Regions from separate parts of the Homo sapiens genome. Here region 1 is linked to region 2. Evidence: fine-mapped expression QTL. A gene starts in region 2. The other region holds a variant in brackets. All regions are shown on one strand. Distances are between the middles of the regions.

What was found.
Region 1: its variant is fine-mapped to the expression of LINC00659 in monocytes (Quach 2016, PIP 0.95).

What each region holds. Positions count from the first base shown.
Region 1 is chr20:62,418,751-62,423,130 of GRCh38, forward strand. RBBP8NL (RBBP8 N-terminal like) reads right to left here. Exons shown (of 14, transcript NM_080833.3): 2 at 837-980. The coding sequence starts at 897. Among named protein-coding and RNA genes, the nearest start is that of RBBP8NL, 6.6 kb to the right of the region's middle. RefSeq lists an enhancer at 4,259-4,380. The variant T/A (reference allele first, on the strand shown) is at 1,782.
Region 2 is chr20:62,775,149-62,779,528 of GRCh38, forward strand. It overlaps LINC00659 (long intergenic non-protein coding RNA 659), which reads right to left and starts at 1,708. Exons shown (of 3, transcript NR_046225.1): 1 at 1,658-1,708; 2 at 167-238. RefSeq lists a silencer at 1,015-1,176.

The sequences.
Region 1 (4,380 bases), 360 kb before region 2:
CCTGTGAAAGGTAGAGGGACCGAGGGGCCATTTTGTGTGTGTGTGTGTGTCATAGCTAGTGTTGAAATAAGATAAGCTTCTGGGGCGGACCCCACCAGACCCTCTCCTTGCCGTATCTTGGGGATCCAACCTGGGCCTGGCTAGCCCCAGCAGCCCCACCTCTCTGGGTTGCCTAGGAGGCAGCCGGGTCCTTGGACCTCCAGGTGGGTGTGGGTGCTCAGTGGAAAGACCACGGGGAGGTGCTGGCCCTGGGACTGGACTGGGGGTGGTGTGGGGGCTGCGGCCCTGTCCCTCGTGGGGGAAGTGGACAGGGGTGGGGCCTGGGGCGTGTCCTAGAAGGAAGAGAAGAGTTGCAGCTCAGTGCCTTGACATGTTCTGGATGGGTCCAGAGAGCCATAAGCTCCTGTTTCTGGAAGTGGCTGTCTCTGCCCTGGTGAGCTCAGCAGGCCGGCCAGGGTGGGTACTTCTTTCTGCCACGCTGGAGGCCGGCCCACGGGAGAACAAAGCATGGGCAGCATGGGGCCTGCGGGTGGCAGGTGGCCATGAGGTGTTGGTGGCAACCCTTGAAAGTGCCCCTCCCCCTCGGGGTCACACTCTGGGAGTGGCTCGAGGACATCCCCGCTTGAGGTCAGCACTCGGGCCCAGGCAGGGTGTCTGCCACGTTGTAGCTCTGGGCCTTGGGTCAGGACTCCCCTGCCTGGGCCAAAAAGACGGGGTCCATTCCCTGACTTGGTGGGAATTGGAGGTGATCATGGGTGCACAGTGGCCTGCTCCGACCCTTAGGTGAGGGCTGTGGAGACCCCTCCCTAGCCTGGCATCTGTCCCTGGCCCCTCACCCAGGACTTCCTTCTCGTGGATCTCCTTCAGCCTGTTCAGCGACTCCATGAAGCTCTCCATGGCTCCCTGTGGCCCTGGCCCGGGCCCCTCTGCGCTGGGGTTGTGGAGACGCCTGCAGCCTCTACTGCCCCTCTGTGTCCATCCTGAAGAGGAGGAAGAGGGGACAGGGATCCGCTCAGGAAGGGCTTGTGGGCTGTGGAGTCCAGGAGAGGATTGGGGCTCCTTGTGTCTGTATGGAGCAGACCCCATGCCATGCTGTAGGGGCTACTCATGGGAGGTGGCCTGGAGGCTCCCGAACCCCACGGGCAGGCACAGAGATAGTACATTGTGTGGCTTCCTCCCACACGTATGTGGCCGGGGGCCAGAGGGCAGGGTGCTGGCTGCCGTGCGGGAGGGGCTGGAGGGGCCAGGGAGCATCTGGGGTGAGTGCCGGCACCTCTGAGCCACCCCGTTCTCCCCAGGTATCCAGCCCATCAGTGCCTGGCCTGTCCCCACATAAGCCCTTCCCCTGGCACCTCAATGGAGGGACAGGGAAGCCTGGCAAGAGCTGGATGGTGCTGGTGGCACCTGCCCAGCTGTGAAGCTGGGAGTCAGACCTCACCAGTAAGAGCCCCACAGACCCTACCATGCCACTGTCCACACCCCGGCCCCAACACCACTGTCACAGCACCTCCTTCCCTCTCACCAGAGCCCTGTACTCAGTTCCCTCCTGGGATCTCTGTCCCCCTCCAATGCCGTGGCAGCTTCAATCCTGTCCCACAGGCACACACACACACACACACACACACACACACACACACACACACAGATAGCATGTGCACACAACACACATGCACATATATGCAAAAGACACACACAGAGCATGTACACACATAACACACATGCACAAAGACAGACACACCACACAGCATGTATACACACAACACACAGGCACACACCCAGAG[T/A]TACACACATACAACACATATGTACACAGACAGGGATGCCCACACACAACACACAGAGACACATAGACATGGGTATACGCAGACACATGCTGACAACAAAGCTGTGCAGACATAGAGACACAGCTACACATGCAGTTGCAGGTACACGGAAACACACACAGCCACAGCAGCCCCCTCTGCCCGGAAGCGGCTCCCACACGCAGATGCTGGAAGGTTCCAGGAAGAGGTAGGAGCCACTCTGAAGAGGTCACAGGCCCCCTCCCTCCCTGCCTGCCTCCCCTACCCACAGGTCTCAGGAGGTCCTTGGTAGGCAGTGGGTATCTTGTGGTCTCACGGACTAAGGCCAGAATTAAGGGGCCGTGGGGCCTTTGCAGGCTGGGCCTGGGGACCTGGGCTGGAGCACTCATCGTCAAACCCTCCCAGACCTTTCCAAATTCCCAGTGGCCTGGAGAGCTCCCAGGCAGGGCTGGGCGGAGTGAGCCTGGGGGCGCTGTGACTGTCTGTCTGTCCTCCCCTGACCCTTCCCCCTCCTCCCACAGATTGGCCTCCAGGCCTGGGAGGTTGGGATACCGGTCAAGTGGCTGGGCCTCTGCAAGCCAGTGTTTGTGGCACACAAACCGCTGCAGTTCAGACTTCTTCACCGGGTGGCTTGTGCTTCACGCGGTCGGGTGGGGGAGTGTGTGTGTTTGCCGTGTGTGTGCACGCCCGAGCCAGTGTGCATGTGTGTGCCGTGTGTGTGCATGATAGCCAGTGTGCGTGTGTGTGTGCCATGTGTGTGCACGCCCGAGCCAGTGTGTGTCCCATGTGTGTGCACACCTGAGCCAGTGTGCATGTGTGTGTGCCATGTGTGTGCACACCCAAGTCAGTGTGCGTGAGTGTGCGTGTGTGTGCCGTGTATGCGTGATTGCCAGTGTGCATGTGTGTGTGCCGTGTGTGTGCATGCCCAAGTCAGTGTGCATGTGTGTGCTGTGTGTGTGTGATAGCCAGTGTGCATGTGTGTGCACACCCAAGTCAGTGTGCATGTGTGTATGCCATGTGTGTGCACGCCTGAGCCAGTGTGCATGTGTGTGGCATGTGTGCATGATAGGCAGTGTGCATGTGTGTGTGCCAGAGCCAGTGTGCATGTGTATGTGCTGTGTGTGCATGCTCAAGCCAGTGTGCATGTGTGTGGCATGTGTGCATGATAGGCAGTGTGCATGTGTGTGTGCCATGTGTGTGCATACCCGAGCTAGTGTGCGGGTGTGTGCCATGTGTGTGCATGCCTGAGCCAGTGTGCATGTGTGTTTGCTGTGTGTGCACACCCGAGCCAGTGTGCATGTGTGTGTGCCATGTGTGTGCATCTGTTTTTGCTCTGTGTGTGCGTGCCCAAGCCAGTGTGCATGTGTGTGTGCTGTGTGTGTGCATACCCAACCTACTGTGGAACCACTGGTGCGTCACCTGAACAACTGTGTCGGCCTCCTCCCTGCCTGGCCTCCTGCTCAACCTTCCCTGAACCCCCTGCCTCCCCCCATCTCTTCCAGGACCACTCTCCATGGTGGCCATCCCTGGGAAGCTCTGGTCTCTGCTCAGATGTGCACCGCTCTGCTCAAAATCCAACTTCGGGCTCGCAGCTGGAGGCCATGCCCAAGGCCTCGCCACGGCCAGCCCAGCCCAAGTGGATCACAGAGCGGAACAGCCATGGCTGCATCTGGGTTCTCAAAGGTCAGCCTGGAGACGCCCACGTGAGGGTCCTGTGTGCAACATCATTCTACAGAACCGTCCCGAACAGGACCGCCTAACCCCATCCCATGACGGGTGGAATATGGTGGCCGCCCAGCCCCATGCCCATCCCAGCGTGGCCAAACCACCCAAGCCAGGCTTGAGGGTGCATTGAACACAGAAAGAGGCACTTGCCCTGGGGCCCTGGAAGTCAGGTGGTGGGCGTCTTTGGGGGTGGGGCTGGGGTGCCTCTAACTGAGGGTGGCAGGCCTTGGACCCCGAGAGAGGCCTTGGGACCCCGAGAGAGGCCATGGGGCCTGGGGTGGGGACGGGGACTGGGGTGGGGATGGCGACTGGGGTGGGGACGGGGACTGGGGTGGGGATGGGGCCCGGAGTGGGGATGGGGCCCGGGGTGGGGATGGGGACCGGGGTGGGGATGGGGACCGGGGTGGGGATGGTGACTGGAGCCACTTGGAAGGAGGGTGTCCTAACTCTTGCCGAGCCCTTGCACCTGTGATCAAGCATTAGTGCCGAGCCTGGTGGGGCAGCAAGGGGTGTGGGACAGAGTGTGGCCTGTGTTCGGGGGTGGCTGCAGCGTCCCCAGGGGCCCCTGACAGGGCTAGTGGGGCTGCATGGAGGGCGGAGCACCAGGATGCTGGGCTGCAGAGGCTCAGTCCACAGACCCGCCTGGGCTTTGGGGCCTCCAGCCACCCTCGGAGGGAGTGGGGGTGACAGTTGGCGGCTCTGTGTTGGGTGGGTGAGGGATCCTGGGACTAGGGAGACTTGGGGCTTTCCTGGTGGGAGGCTGGGAGGGATGTCTTTGCTGGTGAAGGGGACCAACAGGACGCTGAGCTCCAGAGGTGGGGACAGCATGGAGCCTGCCGGAAGCAGGTCACGTGGC
Region 2 (4,380 bases):
GTGGAGCATGTCTTAAGAGCTGGCATGAGGATCAGAGGGTCCCTTCAGTGCGGCCTTCTAGAAGAACTACAGCAACCAGGCCCTCGCAGGGGGGAGATGCACCTGCTGGGGCTAAGGAGCGAGTGAAGCCAGCCCCTGAGACACATGCTCCCAACCCCATCCTCACCTCCCAAGAGAGGGGGAGCCTCCTGTTAAGCATCCAAGTCCCAAGTCACCGGCCGGCATCGGCTGCAGCTCTCTGTGTGTGGAGACATCTCATTCTGGTGTCTTCTTTACACAGGTCAGCGCTCACAGGCTCGGCTGTGTCTCAAGACCCAATTCCTTCGAGTCACTGAGATGCCCAAGGACAAGGGCAACAGAGAGTGTGAAAAGCTGGAGTAGACAGGACAGAAAACAGGGTGCAGCGTCCCCCAGGTTGGCAGATAGCCCAGCCCCAGGGACCCCACAGCCATGGCAACCTGTGTGAATGAGCCCCAGGAGCAGGGCAGTACACGATCTGCGCGACTGTGCGGGGCAGCCCTGGGTCTCTGCCTCAGGGGAGAGATTGTGTCCTCGCCTTTTGTGGTTTCTAGAGGTTCCTGCCCTCCTTGGCTGCACGGCATCTCCCAGCCTCTCTCTCCCTTCCGTCGTCCCCTCTCCTCCTCTGACCCTGACCCTCCCAGTCCCTCTTAGAGGGGCTGTGATTAAACTGTGCCCACCCTGACCATCCAGAATAATCTCCCATCTCAAGGTCCTTAACAGCATGTGGAACTGCACTAGCCGCCCCAAGGCCCCCAAAAGGCAACCCTGGATTGGGCCCCCCAAGTTGCCTGGGATTCATGGCCACCACCCGGCTCGACGGCTCCAGACCGAAATGCACCCAGTTATAGAAACAGACAGTTGCCTCTTGAATGTGCACATGTGTGAGGAGAGTGTCACACCCGTCGAATTAAGGTGGACCCGCCATGAGTGGGGGCAATGCTGGCCAATGCCCACCTGCCCAGCACCCACAGCTCTCGGCCTGGGGCTCCCTCTGTCTCTGGAGCCCGCACTAAAGTGTGCGTCTCCATCCACGACTGGCAGGGCTTGGGGCATAGACATCCCGCTGCCTTGCCTGGAGGCGCCCCAGGCCTCCACTCCCACACTGTCTCAGGGCTCCCCGGGGCTCGGCTCTCCTTGCTCACAGTGGTCCGGGCTGGGGTTCCTTCTTGGTTGCATTTCCAGCTGTGTTCTTTCCTTCACTTTCTCACTCTCCCTTGCCTCAGGGTCTGCATCTGGGGGTCCACTGGGGAGGACTCAGCCTCTCCCGCGTCCTCCATCCCACACACCTGTCCCTGGGCAGCCACGGGGAACAGGAGCACAGGGGACAGCAGGCAGAGGGCAGCGCCCGGGCGAAGGGGACTTTCGCCCTTGCTTCATGCAGCCCTGGCACCCGCAGCAGGGTAAGACGAGATCCCAGAGGAGGAGTCTTGGCCGCAGAACTGCAGGGCCAAGGCACCAGCCGCTCGGGGGCCTGGAGAGCTCAGGTCACAAACTTGAAGTCAGCTGCCCAGGAAGCAGCCTCAGCTGGGGGTCACAGGCCAACTGGGCAGTGCCCTTGGCCACACCTGTGGAAGGAGGACAGAGGAGGGCAGGGCGGAGGAGGGAGGTGCTGGGCTGCAATGTCACCTCTACAGACCTCGGCTGATCCCAAGGGGGTCCACAGTGGATATGGTCCTTCAGGGGTGCCCTTGAAGGCAGGAAGGGGACAGGACTTTATACTGTTCCTCCCACCCCTTCGAGCAGTCACCAACTGCAGCCCAGATGAGGTCAACAGGTACAGAAAGGAGGGGGTGGGACAGGAAGGAGGGGCGGGACAGGAAGGAGGGGGCGGGACAGGAAGGAGGGGCAGGACAGGAAGGAGAGGGTGGGACAGGAAGGAGGGGCGGGACAGGAAGGAGGGGGCGGGACAGGAGGAGGAGATGGGAACAGGGAGGTGGAACGGGAAGGAGGAAATGGGACAGGAAGGAAGAGATGGGAGCAGGAAGGAGATAGGACTGGAAGGAGGAGATGGGACTGGAAGGAGGAAATGGGACAGGAAGGAGGAGATGAGGCAGGAAGGAGGAGATGAGGCAGGAAGGAGATGAGGCAGGAAGGAGGAGATGAGGCAGGAAGGAGGAGATGAGGCAGAAAGGAGGAGATGGGACGGAAAGGAGGGGATAGGACAGAAACGAGGGATCAGGGTCCTATTCTAATCTCCTGGGGGCATGATTGCAGGGGGTGACATGATTACTTCCAGCCAGCCCTACATGAGCCACCTCGTCCATGGAGTCAGCCCCGCCAGGGCAGCAGAGCCCTGGGTTCGCACAGGGAGCCAGGGTGGCGTGGGGCCTGCATTGCAGACTCCATTTGTCCACATCAATCACTTCTCTACGGCCCAAATCACCCTTAGTTGCCCAGTTCCTGCTCCGCGGCAGTCTGGCTCCTGCTGGCGCCCCAGCCATCTGTCTGCATTAGAGAATGATGCTTGCCAGGGCCTCAGGGAGGTGGCACGGATGGGCAACACTGTGCTCCCGGACCAGGTGACAGACACCACCTCATGCCCCATGGCATGGACCTCCACCTGTCTGATGGCTTTGCCCCAGCCTATCTGATGGCATGGTCCCTGGCCAGTCTATCTAATGGCGTGGTCCCCAGCATGTCTGATGGCGTGGTCCCCAGCCTGCCTGATGGCGTGGTCCCCAGCCTGTCTGATGGCATGGTCCCCGGCCTGTCTGATGGCGTGGTCCCCAGTCTGTCTGATGGCGTGGTCCCCGGCCTGTCTGATGGCGTGGTCCCCGGCCTGTCTGATGGCATGGTCCCCGGTCTGTCTGATGGTGTGGTCCCCAGCCTGTCTGATGGTGTGGTCCCCGGCCTGTCTGATGGCTTGGTCCCTGGTCTATTTGATGGTGTGGTCCCCAGCCTGTCTGAAGGTGTGGTCCCCAGCCTGTCTGATGGCGTGGTCCCCGGCCTGTCTGATGGCTTGGTCCCTGGTCTATTTGATGGTGTGGTCCCCAGCCTATCTGAAGGTGTGGTCCCCGACCTATCTATCTGATGGTTTGGTCCCCAGCCTGTCTGATGGCGTCGTCCCCGGCTTGTCTGATGGCATGGTCCCCGGCTTGTCTGATGGCATGGTCCCCAGCCTGTCTGATGGCATGGTCCTCAGCCTATCTGATGGTGTGGTTGGTGTGGTCCCCAGCCTATCTATCTGATGGTGTGGTTCCCTGGCCTATTCGATGGTGTGGTCCCCAGCCTGTCTGATGGGGTGGTCCTCTGTTGGCTGGTGTGATCCTGCCTCTTGTCTCACATCGTGAACCCTGGCCTGCAGGAGGTGACCCAAGGCTGATGACTCCTTCTCCGGGGCCCTTGCACCACACAGCCTGGCCCTGATTACAGCCCCTGGGCTCCTGTACCTGTCCTCGCAGCCCCCACTCTGCCACTTTGCATTTGTCTGTTTCACTCAACACACATTTAATGAGCACCTACTGTGTGTACCAAGCCCAGTGGGGAACAGCACATCAATGAGGCTGGTGCGGGAGGCCTTGGGTACCCTCCGTCTGGCTCCCCGCCCCAGCGCATGAGGCTGCCTCTCTGGGTCTCGGACGCCCACACCGCAGTGTCTGGGAGAAGGCCTGGAAGCCTGCATTTGGGCAGTGGCTCTGGGGCCCGGCCTTGCTGGCTTCCGGTGGCCCCAGGCAATGACTCCTCCCTGTCTCCATTTACAGATGGGGAGAGGAGCTGAGGATGGTGGGCCCGTGACCCTGAGTGGCCAGTTCATTCCCCAGGCCCTGACTGGTGCAGCAAGAAAGAGAATCCGCCTTGGGTTGGGGGATGTGGCATGAACTTTAAGATCCACCCTTTTCCACCCTGGGATCCTGGCCCCCGTCCCGCATCCCAGCCCCAGCCAGGACAGCCCCTGGCCACACCTTCTCGGCACATCAAGAGTCATGAGAGGCAGCGTCTGCCACCAGGAGGCCTCGTCCCACCGGGCCACCTGGCCAGGGCAGCTGCGACAGGAGGCAGAGCTGAGGCCCTGAGCCCTCCTCTGCCCATTCCCAGCTCACCCTCAGGGTTCTAGCCCTGTGTCGCTGCCCCTCTGATCCAAAAACTTGCCACAGGTCCCCTCCCTGCCATGCTGCCCTCTGAGTGACACCCACCCCCTGCAGCCCCCACAGCCCCCACCTTCCCTTCAGAAAGCAGGAGCTGTTGGCCCCGGGGCCCCGCCCACAGGCCACGGTGTCAGTGGTGGCTGAAGTCCGCCGTGCTCACCAATCCTCTGCAGTCTCGCCCCTGCAACAACAGCACTTGAGGAAGGAACTGGCCACGCAGCCTTTCATGAGGTGGGAAACTGAGGCTCAAGGGTGTCTGTACTTTGAACTGGAC